Linked DNA regions of Homo sapiens: region 2 is linked to region 1. The links come from fine-mapping of genetic effects on gene expression. A gene starts in region 1. The other region holds a variant in brackets. All regions are shown on one strand. Distances are from middle to middle. Region 1 holds the start of TNFRSF1A (TNF receptor superfamily member 1A). Region 2 has its middle 15 kb from the start of VWF.

Region 1 (8,481 bases):
GGGCCCTCAGACTCCCCACCACTGGGCACCACTGCTGGCACCAGCTGGCCCCAGTAAGCCCAGTCCTCAGCAGTTGCGTAAATGAAGCAAAACAGGAGAAACAGGAGGTGAGCTCTTTAGGCCCAGACTCCAGCCTGGAGCAGAAGGGCAGGAAGCTGGGGTGCCTGTGGAGAGACAGTTGAGGGGGTGGCCCAACACCCCTCCAACTCCCCCACAATTTCCGCCAGAGGAGGCTTTAAAGTGTGACTTCCTGTGCTGGGGCTGCAGAGTGGGGAGGCGACGCTGAGATCGGCCTTGTGGTCTGACCCCGATCCAGCCACCTTGCAGGGACCCAATTAGTCTTCCTTTCCCCCTCATTCATGTGTCTGTTCATTTAATGTCAAGGTGTTGGGGGAGGTCGTGGCAGCTTCTCCTCCAAGGGCCCAGTTGAGATCCCATCTCCCTCCCGTGAAGCCACCATTGACGATGTCTGTTTCCTCCACCCCGGCTCCTTAGACCCATAGTCCCTGTGAACTCGAAGCACGTGAACTGACCCTATCTACTTTTGGCTCTTATCATAATATGGTTATGTTGGGTGACAGATATGATCTCCCCAAAGTGACCACGAACCTTATAAGATGAGAGATCAAAAAATGTCTTGGTCAGAAAGTGTCTTATCCTCCCCTGGTGTCCTCTCAGCTCCCAGAACCAGACCTCCAGACTGGGAGCAGATAAATATGGATCAACTGATCGATCTAATGATACATCTGTCTTCCACTCTAGTAGAAGCCAGTGATTCCCAAAGAGGGAGGTGAGGAGACAGCACCCCTGGTAGGAATATATTTATCTCCGGGGGAGAGTTTTCAGACCATCCCCCCACCTCCCCACACACAAGCACACACACCCTTACTTAAGAGTCTGGTGTGCTCCTCTCCTTTTGAGAACCACTGATGAGTGAACACAGTGTGTCTGAATGATACAAAGGCAGAAAGAAGTTGCAGCACCTCTCCTCCAGCTTGGTAGGCGCACCCTTCCACATGACCATTTCCCTGACCCTTAACATGCCCCAGACGGAATTCATCCATCTCCTCACCTAGACAAATGACACACCATCGACTTCCCGGACGAATGCTGAGAACTTGCCACGCTCTCTCCCCAGGGCCCCATCCCTATCCCTGCCGCCATCCCATGTGTCAGTTCATCTTGCGAGGCCTCCCCCTGTGATCTCTCGGTCCTCTCCGCATTCCTGGGTTGCCTCACACCTGGGTTATTGCAAGTGTCTTCTAGCCTCTCTCCTGCTCCCATCCGTCCTACACACTTTTTAAATCTTCATTCAGGCTTTAACTTGCACGCACAAGTGTGTGAACCTTCCTCTCCATCTCCAGGGCCTGGCTCCAAACAGCATTTCCATGGTCATGGAAATGATCTGAAGACTTCCACAGATGCCTCACTACTTTTTTTTTTTTTTTTTTGAAACAGGGTCTCACTCTGTCACCCAGGGTGAAGTGCAGTGGCACAATCATAGCTCACTGCAACCTTCACCACCAGGACGGAATGTAGTGGTGTGGTCAGGGCTCACTACAACCTCCACCTCCTGGGCCCAAGCCGTCCTCCCGAGCTCAGTCTCCCGAATAGCTGGGATGACAAGCACGCCCCACCATGCCCCGCTAATCTTTGTATTTTTTGTAGAGACAGGGTTTTGCTGTGTTGCCCAGGCTGGTCTCGAACTCCTGGACTCAAGCAATCCACACACCTCGGCCTCCTGAAGTGCTGGAATTACAGGCATGAACCACAGCACCCATCTGAGATGCCTCACCTCACTTCTAATCACAGTCTGGGCACAGAATGTGCCCTAGGAGAACAGCTTCTGAATAAACGAATGAATGAATTCCTCCACCTGGAACCATATTCAACACTCTTCCTCCATCCTCTCCCCCACTCCCTCTAATTCTCCCATTCACATTTCTTAGTGTTTCTCAACATGGTTTTTCCACTCCCGAACCAAGGTGTCTGGCTTCCTGCCACCCTGCCCATCAACACAAAATCCCATCTCTCCATTCCTCTCCTCTTCCTCACATCAGTATCCAACTCTGCTTCCCTCCTTTATAGCTACCCTGACAGGCAGTGACTTCAGATGTCAGCTCCACATCCACTTTTCTATGAGGCTTTCCCTCCGCCATCCCATCTGACACATCTCTTGTTCCTTAATTCCTTCAGCAAATAGTTAAGGGGCACAGTTAATGTGACAGGTCCCGTATGGGTGCTAGGGATGCTGAGGTGGATAATACACAGCTCGTGCTCTCAAGAGCTCTCACTTGAGTCAAAGACAGTCAGTTGTAGGCACTGAGATCTATACAGGGAGTGCTGCAGTTGCACAGTGAAGGACACTGAAGCAGCGTGGGGAAGCTCCTGAATTTTCTGGAGCTGAGCGCAGGAGCTGAGACCTGCTAAGCAAGGAAAGGCAGTGGACTAAGGCTCACCTCCTTCCCCAGTTCCTCCTCCTCCCAACTGGTGCTCCAGGACACCACATCACAATGCATTTGTGGATATTTTCCTCGGGATTGCTCTGAAATCATTTTTCACTGTAAGCCATCTTGGTTACTAGGCTGTAAGCTCTTTGAGAGCAGCAAAATCCTGTTTGCTTTGCCACAGTCTCTCCTGTATCATTCTTCCCTACTCCCCTACCCCACTTCTCTCTCTCTCTCTCTCTCTCTCTCACACACACACACACACACACACACACACACACACTGTGAGCTCTGCATTGCCCACTGAATGGTGAGAAATTCAGAAGGATGTTGCATTCCCTTTGTTTTCCCTTTCCTCCAGCTCCAGGCCAGGCTTCTGTCCCTTAGGAGACATAATCCCACCTGGGCTGAAGCACCCCAGGACGCAGGCACTTCCCTTTACCTGTTCAGGCTACCTTTACCCTCTGTTTTCCCAACACAGGTAGCCACCCAGTAATTACTACTAGTCACAGCAATATAAAAACTTTATTGAGTGCTTTCTATTTGCTACAACCTATTCCCCTGATGGACTGTCAAAGCTGTGGGCAGGGATTTTGTTCTCTGCTGTAATCCCAGCACCTATCACAGTGTCTAGCCCAGAGCGCACACTTAATAAATCAAATGAACACTTAACATGTATCAGTCTATTCAATCTTCAAAACAACAGTATGAGGTCAAGACTGTGACACCCATTTTGGAGATAAAGAAACGAAGGCATGGAAGGTTAGGTTATATAAGCTGCTCTTGTTCATGCAGGAGGTATGTGAGGGAGCCAGGGGCCGCCCCCAAACAGAAAACAGAAGCAGGATGTCAGGGCAGCTGGCTGGTGGGGAGACCGTGGGGGAAGGACAGTGGGAAGAAGGGAAGAGCGGGTGGGACTAAGGAGGCAGGAGGAGGCAGAAGAAGAAGAGTGAGACCCTGACCAGAGACGTGCTGCCTGGGGACCTGGGGCCGGGACCAGAGCGGAGCAGAGAGGAGGGGAAGGAGGATTAGCGAGAAAAGATTTCAAAAAAAGAGGCTCTGAGAAGTCTGAGGAGAGTCTGGGGAGATTGCTGGAAGAAAGGAATGGTAGGAGAGGAAGAGTATAAGGCACTAAAGAGAGGGGAGGTAGGCGCAGCCTTCAGAGGCCGGGCAGGGCAGGGAAAATCTGCCTGACTAGATGGGCCCAGGACATCTGAACAGGATGATTCCCGGACCAAGACGTGGAGGACGATCAAGGATACATTGAAACAAGGCTGAGGCCAGAGAAAGGGACATTTTCCAGTGACGAAAACAACTTTCTACCAACTTCCCCAAACTGAACTGTAGAATAAGAAACCAAGGGATTGTTGTTTAGGTCTGTGAGAAGCAGCGGGGAGGGGAAGCTGGAGGACAGGCCCAGGGACACTGACCAGGTGGGGGTAGGACTAGCTCCCTGGGAAGGCTCAGTCCCACAGCGGCTACCTGCCTAGCAGCAGGCAAAAGGGTAAAGAATGTCCCCAGGTGAGAGGCCGGGGCTTGGCCAGGGCACTGGGGACACTGTCCACTGGGTTGCCCTGCCCCATCCAGTGTCCCAGCCCATTCTCAAATACCTCCCACCATGAGCATCCCAAACCCACCACACCAGCCCATCCCCACTCCTCAACTCACTCCCCCACTTCACCAGCCGCCAAAATCCTGCCCTACAGGGTGTGCTCCACCAAGTTCCACAGGCAGCCTCGCCTCCCCACGGCCCAACACCCTCCAGGCCAGCCAGCTGACCGGAGGGACAGAATTCAGAACCGTCTGGACTCCCCGAGCACTAATCTTCCTACTCCCACTCCCTTCTTTTCCCCGCCAAATCTGCCCCACCCTGGGCCTATCTCCTGCCCACATTCCCTTGGCCGCCCACAAACTTCCACCGCTGTCAGGGGCCAGGGCTTCCTTTTACTCTCTCCCTTTCAAACTTCTCCCATTCCCCTGCCTCAGCGCAGCCCCTACTCCAAAAGGCGGATGAATGGGGAACCCCACACTGGCAGTGGCTGAGGTTAGGACCTGCAGGCCTGAGGCTGGCGCCAGGACCAGGCCCGGGCAGGAGAGGCTCGGCCCCCTCCCGGAGAGGGCCCACGCCAGCCGGAAGGTGCCTCGCCCACCAGCCCACTCTTCCCTTTGTCCCTGGTCTCACCAGTGGCAGCAGCAGGTCAGGCACGGTGGAGAGGCCCATGCCAGACAGCTATGGCCTCTCACTCCCCCATTTGGGCTCAGGGCAGTGTGGCAGCGGCAGTGCTGGGGCTTCCCGGGACTCGGTCTGTCCAGGACGTCCCAAGTGCCTTGGGGTGACAGTTGAGGGTTGAGACTCGGGCATAGAGATCACGGCCTGGTCCCAGTGATCTTGAACCCCAAAGGCCAGAACTGGAGCCTCAGTCCAGAGAATTCTGAGAAAATTAAAGCAGAGAGGAGGGGAGAGAAGGTGGGAGGGGAAGAGTGAGGCAGTGTTGCAACAGCGGGACAGGAAGAGCTGGAGGAGGAGGCCACAGGAGGCGGGAGGAGGAGGCCCAACGTTCTTTAACTCTTTGTAGTCCAGTCACAAGCACAGGAGTCCCAGATCTGGCTGCCTTGTGCCCCCAACCCACCAATCCGACCACTCCCAACCAAACACCAAGGGGCAATAAGCCCCTTGCCCACATCACTAGCCTTTCCCAGATGGATCACAGCAGTGAAAAGATCCAGAGTCTGGGAGTCAAATTCTCTGGGTTCCAATTCAGAATGCTTAGCTTTTTAGCTAAGAATGTGTCTTGGACACATAAATGAACTTCTCAGACACATAACTGAAACTGTCTGGATCTGTTTTCCAATTTGCAGAGTGGAGATAACCTGTCTCCTGGGGTTCCTGTAAGGATTTGTTCAGATGGGAGAGATATAGATAAGCGTCCGACACATGATAGGTACTCCATGTCCCTTAGTAATCCTCCCCTTTACTCCAGAGTTCTTCACTAGCCTCCTAGTCTCCCTCTTTCTTGGGAATTTACTGATCCAATCCAAAACTCAAAGTAAGTCCCAACCCTCGTTTTCTGCCCTGACTGGGTGCCTGCCATTCCTCACCCCAGGTCTCATCCAGTCTCTGCCTGGCCAGGTCCCCCCACCCTGCCCCACTGTTGATCCTGGCTCTGCCACCAATCATGCGACATCAGGCAACTCCTCTCCTAAGCCTCTGTTGGTTCCTTGTTTATTAAACAGGGGTAACAATGTCTGCCCACCTACATGGGGAAAGTGATGCCATGAGAATCAATGAGACGTATCCACGAAGCTGCCGTGGAAATAAAGATACCTCCATCAGGTGTTCCTAGCATATTCCCAGTGCCCTTTTCCTAAATATTCCAATACATCAATTATAACTCACCTTACAGATCATCGACTACAACCCCCTAGGTTTTTTTATTTCTTCGTTTGCTTGTTTTTCATTTTTGTTTTTGTTTTGAGGGTCCGCTCCGTTTCCCAGGCTGGAGTGCAGTGGTACCATCGCAGCTCACTGCAGCCTCGACCTCCCAGGTTCAAGTAATCCTCCCACCTCAGCCTCCCAAGCAGCTGGGACTATAGGTGCATACCACCACGCCTGGGTAATTTTTGTATTTTTTGTAGAGACAGGGTCTCACCATGTTACACAGGCAGGTCTTGAACTCCTGGGCCCAAATGATCTGCCCACCTCAGCCTCCTAAAGTGCTAGGATTACAGGTGTGAGCCACCGTGCCCACCCAACTGCCCGGTTTTATAGAGGAGAAAACTGAGGTCCAGAAACCCAATGTGCCAGGAGGCAGAGCCAACAGAGAACCCCAGACTCCCGACTGCCGGTCCAAGGGCCCCTTTGGCTATGAGAGACACACTGCCACTTTTTCTGTCACTGAGTCAGACCCCACATCCTGACTCTGGTTACTTTATGCCATCCTCATTGATGCAGACATCTCCCAAGAGAATCCTACAACAAAGGTACCACATTTACCCAACTATCTTCTTGGTACAATGACCTTCCCTACATCCAGCCCCGCCCAAGGGCCTGCAGCTGCTGAGGCTGCTAGAAATGCAGGCAGACAGAGAAGAGGGAGGTCCTAGGGCTTTGGAACTTGAAACCAGAGCTCCTCACCCCTTATCCCTCTGAGATGACCTCCCAGCCCCAAGTCCACCGTCCCCTGGCTCTTCCTGGCTTCCCCTCTGTGATCCGCAGATGAGAATGGAGCTTCAGTGTCCCTCACTGCGGGGGGAGCTGACTTTACTCCACCCCATCGTCCAGCTTCTGGAGAACTGTAGGGTTGAAGCTGGATTCAGAAAGGAAGCAGCTCACCACCATCACAAAGGGAGACCCCAGGGACAGGAGAAGCGAACCCAAAGCAGTGTTCTTGAAGAAGCAGGAGCCTCAGAATCAAGTGCAAGTTTCCAGTATGAAGCAGCGAGAAGAACCTCGGTCTGCTCATCTAAAAAATGGGAAACCTGCTGGTACCCTTCACAGAGCTAGCTTGATGCTTAAATCAAGCATATAAAGTGTTTGGCAAGTGTTTGCCATATATTAAGCATTTAGTAAGTGGTAGCAATTAATTTTTTTTTTGAAACAGGAGCTTGCTCTCACCCAGGCTAAAGTGCAATGGTGCAATCATAGCTCACCTAACCTAGAACTACTGGCCTCAAGCTAGCCTCCCACATCAGCCTTCCGAGTGGCTAAGACTACCATCGCACACCACTATGCCCAGCTAGTTGTATTAATGATTAATAACAACTTCAGAAGGATAAGTGATACAGGGGAGTATGGTATGTGAGAGGGCGGCAAAAAAAAAAAAAAAAAGCAGAGTGCGGTGGCTCACGCCTGCAATCCCAGCACTTTGGGAGGCTGAGGTGGGCGGATCACAAGGTCAGGAGTTCGAGACCAACCTGACCAACATGGTGAAACCCTGTCTCTACTAAATATACAAAATTAGCCAGGCGTGGTGGCGCGTGCCTGTAATCCCAGCTACTCAGGAGGCTGAGGCAGGAGAATTGCTTGAACCCAGGAGGCAGAGGTTGCAGTGAGCCGAGATCCTGCCAGTGCACTCCAGCCTGGGTGACAGAGCGAGACTCTGTATCAAAAAAAGAAACCAACTTCAATGTCCTATTTTTTTTTTTGATAGAGTTTCACTCTTGTTGCCCAGGCTGAAGTGCAGTGGCACAATCTCGGCTCACTGCAACCTCTGACTCCCGGATTCAAGCAATTCTCCTGCCTCAGCCTCCCGAGTAGCTAGGATTATAGGCATGTGCCATCATGCCCGGCTAATTTTTTGTATTTAGTAGAGACGGGGTTTCACCGTGTTAGCCAGGCTGGTCTCAAACTCCTGACTTCAGGTGATCCACCCACCCTGGCCTCCCAAAGTGCTGGGATTACAGGCATGAGCCACCACGCCCGGCCTCAATGTCCTATTTTTAATGTTATAAGGTATTTCTAATAGTCTGTGCAAAGCGCCAAAGCCGTGACACATAGCCTGGTACAAAAGGAGAATATTTTTCAATATTTAGGATACATGCTTATTTACTCAATAACTTTACAACTTTGACACGTCATATTACATTTTTCAATAAAATTTTGTTTAAAAAAAAAGATGATGAGAAGTGAGTGGATCTAGGAATATGAAAAGCTAACACGTTTCGTGGAGGAGGTGAGAATGAGACCATCATCCCTCCAGGGACAGAAAAAAATCATGGTCAGAGGAGATGGAGAAACAGGAGAGGGGCAGACTAGGGATGACAGAATCGGCTGTTAGGGCTTGTAGAGCAAAGGATGAAGAAAACAGCTACAGAGAGCAGGGACCTTCCTCCCGCATCATGGCACACACACACACACACACATGCTTAACCCAAAGGGTCACTGGACTCCAAGTCCAGATGACGTGGGTTCTAGCCCCAGACCTGCCATTCAGACTCTATGTGTCACAGGGTGGCAGGGTGAGTCATAGAAAGGGAGCTGGGTTCATGGCAGGTTCTCTAAGAATTATGAAGCTCAGCAAGTCACTTCAACTAC
Region 2 (8,481 bases), 200 kb before region 1:
AACCTGTAAATTCGGGATACTAGTTACCTCTAGGGAAGAAAAGAGAAGATGGAATCCAGAGAGTGGGACCTAGGGGGCCATACCTCTCTGTAAATATTTTGTTAATTATTTCAAAAGTATAAAGCAAATATGGCAAAATGTTAACATGCAGCAAGCTGGCTAGAACATGGGTGTTTCTGCATTATCCTCTTTAGTTTTCTCTGTGGTTGAAAGTTTCACTTAAAAGATAAAGCTCTGAAGCCAAGTGACGTGGAAATATTGGCTTTGCCTTACAAATAGCAGGGTGACCAACATCCTGTACATAAATCCTCACACACACAGCCCATTTCCTTGAAACAAATTCCTAGAAGTAAAAGAAATTGCTCGGTCAAAGGGCACAAAAATTAAGCCTTTTATATATCCTCCCAAGAACTTTACCAATTTACCCTTCTATAGCATTATTATTTTTTATTACAGATTTGGTAATGTAAGTGGCAAAAACTATTATAAGATTATTACTTTAGGCCAGGCGCCATGGTTCACGCCTGTAATCCCAGCACTTTGGGAGGCTGAGGTGGGTGGATCACGAGGTCAGAAGATGGAGACCACGGTGAAACCCCGTCTCTACTAAAAATACAAAAAAAATTAGCGGGGCACGGTGGCGGGCGCCTGTAGTCCCAGCTACTCGGGAGGCTGAGGCAGGAGAATGGCGTGAACCCGGGAGGCGGAGCTTGCAGAGAGCTGAGATCACGCCACTGCACTCCAGCCTGGGCGACAGAGCAAGACTCCGTCTTAAAAAAAAAAAAAGATTGTTACTTTAATACTCATTCCTTTCATTATTGGGAGAACATTTTCTAACATTGTCGATGTGTATTTCTTCTTTTGTGAATTTCTTGTTCATGTCTTTAGCTCATTTTTAACTGAGATGCTTATCTATATTGATCTATAAAAGCTCTTTAAAGATTAAAAATGTTAGTGTTTTCTCACATTGATATGAGGATTTTTTTTTTCAGTTCTTCACTTTAATATATATTGATGAGGGTTTTTTTTGTTGTTTGTTTTTTGATGTACAGGAGTTTGAGGAATCATCTCATGTTCTTTTTCTTTTTCTTTTTTTTTTTTTTTTTTTTGATATGGAGTCTTGCTCTGTCACCCAGTCTGGAGTGCGGTGGCGAGATCTCGGCTCACTGCAAGCTCCGCCTCCCAGGTTCACGCCATTCTCCTGCCTCAGCCTCCCAGGTGGCTGAGATTACAGGCATGTGCCACCACACCCAGCTAACTTTTGTACTTTTTAATAAAGACTGGGTTTTACTATGTTGGTCAAGCTGGTCTCAAACTCCTGATCTCAGGTGATCCGCCCACCTCGGCCTCCCAAAGTGCTGGGATTACAGGTGTGAGCCACCATGCCTGACCTAAGGATCTAGTAATCTAGGATGATCTATCTTGCCATCCTTGATTACATGTTCATAGCCAGGTTGACAGAAGAATCCAGGGGGTTACCAGGTGCTCAGTAAACAAACTCAAGGATCTGAAATCTTCACTCCATCCCACTTGCTGCTTCCTTCTTCCCAAGCCCATTATGACTCCTTTAATGACCAGCAGCCCAGCGACTTTCCTCTGGCATGGCCTCAAGCACTGCTTCAGCTCCACCAGGAGCACCAAGGCACTAGAGGCCAGGCAGGAGCAGCCCAGGTGGAAGGCCCCAGGGCGAGGAGGAGCCCCAGCAGCCTGCCTCTTTCCCTTTCGGTGGGCCCTTCTTCTCCAACCTCCCATCCAACAGTCAGCACACGTGCCTTCCTCCTGCACCCTTGCTGAGCACACGCCCACGTCCACCCTGACCCCACACCCTGCACCCCAGAATGTCTGATTGGTCCCCGGAGGCATTGCTTCCCAGACACCTCTTGTGTTCAGCTCACACTGTTCCACCATCCAAATGTCCTGCCTCCTCCCCACTCCTCCTCTCTCCTGTTCATCCTTCCATGTCCCCCTCCTGCAGAGGGAGAATTTGTCATTTGGTGAACACCTTGCAAGTACCAGATACTCTGCTAGCTGCTTGTGAACACTGTGTTACTTCATCCTCCTCTGTGAGTGTCCCAGTGCTGCCGTAACAAATCACCACAAACCGAGTGGCTTAGAACAGCACAAATGTCTTCTCCCACAGTTTTGAAAGGAAGAAGTCTGAAATCAAGGTGTCCACAAAGGCTGTAAGGGAGAGACCTTCCTCACCTCTTCCAGCTTCTGGTGGCTTCAGACTTTCCTTGGCTTGTGGCAGCATCACTCTAATCTCAGCCTCTGTCTTCACATGGCTCTCTCCTCATCTCCCTGTGTGTCTCCCACTGTATATTTCTTATAAGAACACCTGACATTGAATCTAAGTAATCTGGAAGGACCTAGTAATCTTTTTTTGGTTTTTTTGTTTGTTTGAGTCGGAGTCTCACTGTCACCCAGGCTGGAGTGCAATGGTGCAATCTCAGCTCACTGCAACCTCTGCCTACCTGGCTCAAGTGATTCTCTTGCCTCAGCCTTCCAGGTAACCAGGATTACAGGTACGTGCCAACACACCCAGCGGATTTTTGTATTTTTAGTAGAGACAGGGTTTCACCATGTTGCCCAGACTGGTCTTGAACTCCTGACCTCAGGTGATCCACCCGCCTCAGCCTCCCAAAGTGCTGGGATTACAGGCGAGAGCCACCGCACCCAGCCTCTTTGTTTTTGTCAAGGTGGAGTCTCACTCTATCACCCAGGCTGGATTGCAGTGGCACAATCTTGACTCACTGCAGCCTTCACCTCCGAGGTTCAAGTGATTCTCCTGCCTCAGCCTCCCGAGTAGCTGGGATTACAGGCACCACCACCACACCCAGCCTTTTTTTTTTTTTTTTTTTTTTTTGGTATTTTTAGTAGACAGGGTTTTGCCATGTTAGCCAGTCTGGTCTCAAACTCCTGGCCTCAAGTGATCTGCCCACTTCGGCCTCCCAAAGTGCTGGGATTACAGGCGTGAGCCACCACACCCCGCCTAAGGATCTAGTAATCTAGGGTGATCTATCTTGACATCCTTAATTACATCTGCAAAAAGCCTTTTTCCAAGTAAGGTCACATTCACAGGGTCCAGGAGTTAGAATGTGGACATGTCTTTTGGGGGTCACCATTCAATCCACTGTACCTTCTAACAACCGTTTGAGGGAAAGAGAGCGTTACTCTCATTTTATAGTTGAGGATGCTGAGGCTCAGACAGGGTAAGGGCCTTGCCTAGGATCACACTGCTACCAAAGGCAGCCAGCATCTGAATCTACCTGATTACAAAGTCCGTGTTTTCTCCACTATACCTATAACTCTTCCATAAGCCTTTTCTCCTTTCCTCCCACCCTTCACCCCCGCTTTTCCTGCCTTTGAACCACCTCTGGGTGCTTCTGTGGCCCTCTCATCTTTTCATGCATTTTTCTTTTTTTTGAGACGGAGTCTCGCTCTGTTGCCCAGGCTGGAGTGCAATGGCGCGATCTTGGTTCACTGCAACCTCTGCCTCCCTGGTTCACGCCATTCTCCCACCTCAGCCTCCCGAGTAGCTGGGACTACAGACGCCCACCGCCACACTCAGCTAATTTTTTGTTTTTATATTTTTAGTAGAGACGAGGTTTCACCGTGTTACCAGGATGGTCTTGATCTCCTGACCTCGTGATCTGCCCGCCTCGTCCTCCCAAAGTGTTAGGATTATGGGCATGAGCCACCGCTCCCAGCCTTTTCATGCATTTTTGTTTGTCTTATCTCCTCCAGTCTGAGCTCTCCTTAGAACAAGACCTTGCCTTACTCATCTCTGTATCTTCCAAAGTGCTCTGTCTGGAGCATAGCACATGGTAAGTGCTCCATAAATGTCTGTTGAACTCCCTGCTAGTAGAACAATGATGTGGGTTAATTAGCATATAATATTAAAATGTAGCTACAGAACTGAAACTGCAGATAAAAAAAATTGCTTAATACCCAAGGAAGTTGTTGCCTGCTCTCCAAATCATCAGCACAGAAGATAGCACTCGTCACTGTGGTTGGGGAAATTGCACGGTGAAAGTCACAGGATGGCTCTGCAAGGGGGCAGGGACATCAGACTGGGGTCACGTTCCCATGTGGTATTCTGCGCCTGTAACTCATATGACACTCTGGCACTATTTCTAAATAACACTCAAGTGTCTGTTTTATCAGAGTATAACACACTTGGCTGGAATAGTTCACTTACTGATATTCCACAATTTATGTAACCAGTTCCATATTATGGGATATTTATTTAGGTTAGTGCTACTTTTTTTTTTTTTTTTTTTTTTTTGAGATGCAGTCTCGCTCTGTCACCCAGGCTGGAGTGCAGTGGCGCAATCTCGGCTCACTGCAAGCTCCACCTCCTGGGTTCATGCCATTCTCCTGCCTCAGCCTCCCGAGTAGCTGGGACTACAGGC[A/G]CCCGCCACTACACCCGGCTAATTTTTTGTATTTTTAGTAGAGACAGGGTTTCACCGCGTTAACCAGGATGGCCTCAATCTCCTGACCTCGTGATCCGCCCGCCTCTGCCTCCCAAAGTGCTGGGATTACAGGCGTGAGCCACCACTCCCGGCCTACTTTTTTTTTTTTTTAATTAACAATGCTGCAGTGAACATCTTTGAAGCTATATCCATGCACAACCCTCAGGATTACTCCCACAGGATGAAATCCTACATGTGGAGCACTGGGTCAGCCACCGTCCACATTTTCAGTGAGGCCTTTGACAATAAGGCCAAATGGCCCCCCTGAAAAATTGCAATGGTTTATAATGGTTGCAATGGTTTAATTACCCATTTGCTGAGTAGGATTTTGCCAGGTGAAAATGAGGGCAAAGGCACATCAGCTGCAAGGAAGGAAGTAAAAGCTTAGAAGCAGGCAAGCTCTGAGATGCTAAATCAGTAAGTAGGTGAATAAGCCAGTTGTTACAGCCTATAAAGGAGACTCACAGGAAAAGAGACCAAAGAGAGGAATAAGAGGCAAGTCCTCAGGGACCTTCAACCAGTGTAGGGGTTTATGTTCATCCTGTGACACCAGATGAGGCCCTCTGGCAGCAGTGGCATGTATTGTGAGAGGTCAGATGGAGAAAGGGAGATCCATTAGTGGTTGGTGGAACCTTCCCGGACAGGGAAGACGAGGGCCTGGAGGAGACCATGGGTTTGACAAGAGAAGAGCAGATACAGCCAACCACGTAACACATTACGGTAGCAGAAGAACAGCCAAAGATGTCTACATCCCATCTCAAACCTCTGAATGCTACCTTACATGGCAAAAGGGATTTTGCAGATGTGAGCAAGTTAAGGGTCTTGAGATGGGGAGATGATCCTGGCTTACCCCAGAGTATCCTGCTGGGCCGATATAATCACAAGAGTTTTTATAAGAGGAGCAGGAGGGTCAGCATCAGGGAAGGAGATGTGATGATGCGAGCAGAGGTCATGCAACGCGGGGCCACGAGGCAAGGAATGTGTGCCCCTGGAAGTGGATAGAGGCGAAGAACAGGTTCTCCCATAGAACCTACAGAAGGAATCCAGCTCTTCCAACACACCTTGATTTTGATCCAATTCGAGCTTCTTACAATTACGAATTGTAAGATAAATTTGTGTTGTTTCAGGCCACTAAGCTTGTGGTCATTTGTCACTGCAGCAATAGAAAACTAATATAGGCCAAGATATCATGCCACACAACCTGCTCCCTTGCCCTCATGGAGGGTGTCCCAAGGCAGCTTTGCCAAATAAGTTAGAGGACAATTAGTGCTGTGAGGCTCAAGGAAGAAGGATCCCTGAGGACCACAGTATGAGAGCCATTAGAACTTGGGCTGATGTAAACAGCATTAAGTACAAATGGGAAGGGTGCGTGACCTCTGGGGGCGCATGGGGCAGGGCTGCTCAGAGGCAGGGGGATGGGTAAATTGACCTCTGCCTGTCTGAGGAGTAAGTTCTCCAGGTAACTAGTACAAAAGCAAAAGAACCTCAGGGGAGGAAAGGTTTTCTAGGAGGACCCATCTTTGTCTTTTCTTTGTATATTTGTAGCATCTCTCTTACGTAAATTCTGCAGGAAAGAGAATTTTCTTGGCAGTATGCGCCAAATAAATAAACACAGCAGTATTTCTTAGGCCAGACGACCAGCTCCCAGCATAAAGCTGTAGCCCCCAGCGGAGAGGAAGCTGTCCTCCTCTACTTCCTCTCTTCTAAAGACAAACATCTTGTGCAAGAATAACATGCTCACTTCCTTCACAATCATCAAAATAGAGAGGACCCACCCACGCTACAATGTCAGAAGAATGGTGCAGCTTCAGACTCATCTTCCCTGGTTCTCAGGAACAATGACACCACATTATTGCTGCTATCGAGCTACAGAGAACTCAGACCATTACATCTGGTGGCATTCCTGGCCCCAGTAGTAGCACAGCAGGATTCCTGACCCCAGAATCACTATCTCAAGACCTGGGGTTCTAATTTGAGAGGCAGAAAGTTACAGCAACTCAAATTTATATGCATCTTACAAAATAGCTTCAAAATACATAAATTGACAATTGACTTCAAAAAGGCTTTCTCAATTATCCATAGGTCAGGCAGATAAAAATCAGTAAAGATAGAAATTTTAAAAACAATGATCAGCCTAGGCAACAAAGTGAGACCTCATGTCTACAAAAAAAAGAAAAAATTAGCCAGGTGTAGTGGCACACATCTGTCATCTTAGCTATTCAGGAGGCTCAGGCAGGAGGATTGCTTGAGCCCCGAAGTTCCAGGCTGCAGTGAGCTATGATTGCACTGATGCAGGGCAAGTAAGCTCCCAAATTGGGACTTAGCCCTGGAAGATTCTTGGCTTTGCTCAGGAAAGAATTCAAGAGCCAGCTGGTGGTAGAAGAAAACAGCTTTATGGAGGCAGCAGTGTGACAACTTTATGACTACTCCTGCAGAGCAGGGCTAACCCCTAGGCAATGTGTTGAGAGCACCAGCTCAGGGGCAGGTCAACAGTCATACATATACCCACTTTCAATTACTTGCAAGTTAAGGTATTGAGAGGTGACAGCGTGCTGGCAGTCCTCAGAGCCCTTGCTTGCTCTCAGCACCTCCCCTGCCTGGGCTCCCACTTTGGCGGCATTTGAGGAGCCCTTCAGCCCCCCACTGCACTGTGGGAGCCACTTTCTGGGCTGGCCAAGGCTGGAGCCCGCTCCCTCAGCTTGCAGGGAGGTGTGGAGGGAGAGGCGCGAGCAGGAAGCAGGGCTGCGTGCCGCGCTTGCGAGTCAGCTGGAGTTCCGGGTGGGCGTGGGCTTGGCGGGCCCCACACTCAGAGCAGCCGGCCAGCCCTGCTGGCCCCGGGCAATGAGGGACTTAGCACCCGGGCCAGCAGCTGTGGAGGGTGTACTGGGTCCCCCAGCAGTGCTGGCCCACCGGCGCTGCGCTCGATTTCTCGCCGGGCCTTAGCTGCCTTCCCGCGGGGCAGGGCTCGGGACCTGCAGCCTGCCATGCCTGAGCCTCCCACCCACTCCATGGGCTCCCGTGTGGCCCAAGCCTCCCCGACGAGCACCACCCCCTGCTCCACGGCGCCCAGTCCCATCGACCACCCAAGAGCTGAGGAATGAGAGCGCACAGCGCGGGACTGGCAGGCAGCTCCACCTGCAGCCCCAGGTGCGGGATCCACTAGGTGAAGCCAGCTGGGCTCCTGAGTCTGGTGGGGACGTGGAGAGTTTTTATATCTAGCTCAGGGATTGTAAACACACCAATCAGCACCCTGTGTCTAGCTCAAGATTTGTGAGTGCACCAATCGACACTCTGTATCTAGCTGCTCTGCTGGGGCCTTGGACAACCTCTGTGTGGAAACTCTGTATCTAACTAATCTGATGGGGACGTGGAGAACCTTTGTATCTAGCTCAAGGATTGTAAACGCACCAATCAGCGCCCTGTTAAAACAGGCCACTCGGCTCTACCAATCAGCAGCATGTGGGTGGGGCCAGATAAGAGAATAAAAGCAGGCTGCCGGAGCCAGCATTGGCAACCCGCTCCGGTCCCCTTCCACAGTGTGAAGGCTTCGTTCTTTTGCTCTTTGCAATAAATCTTGCTATTGCTCACTCTGGGTGCACACTGCTTTTAAGATCTGTAACTCTCACCGTGAAGATCTGCAGCTTCACTCCTGAGGCCAGCAAAACCACGAGCCCACCGGGAGGAACGAACAACTCCAGATGCACTGCCTTAAGAGTGGTAACGCCCACCGCAAAGGTCTGCAGCTTCAATCCTGAGCCAGGGAGATCATGAACCCACCAGAAGGAAGAAACTCTGAACACATCTGAAAGTCAGAAGACACAGACTCCAGATGTGCCACTTTAAGAGCTGTTAACTACGAGGGTCTGTGGCTTCATTCTTGAAGTCAGTGAGACCAAGAACCCACCAATTCCAGACGCAGTATGGGTTATTCAGAAATTTCTAGAAAAATGGTGGTAACTTTCACGTGGTTGCCATGAAAAGAGGTGGTAACTTCTGTGTGTTGCCA

The links.
Region 2: its variant is fine-mapped to the expression of TNFRSF1A in whole blood (TOPMed, PIP 0.96).

What each region holds. Positions count from the first base shown.
Region 1 is chr12:6,337,147-6,345,627 of GRCh38, forward strand. TNFRSF1A (TNF receptor superfamily member 1A) reads right to left here and starts at 4,930. Exons shown (of 10, transcript NM_001065.4): 1 at 4,630-4,930. The coding sequence starts at 4,668. It also overlaps the pseudogene RN7SL391P. RefSeq lists enhancers at 1-658, 1-64, 57-351, 125-174, 4,733-4,832.
Region 2 is chr12:6,135,004-6,143,484 of GRCh38, forward strand. No RefSeq gene overlaps it. Among named protein-coding and RNA genes, the nearest start is that of VWF, 15 kb to the left of the region's middle. RefSeq lists an enhancer at 7,344-7,901. The variant A/G (reference allele first, on the strand shown) is at 4,416.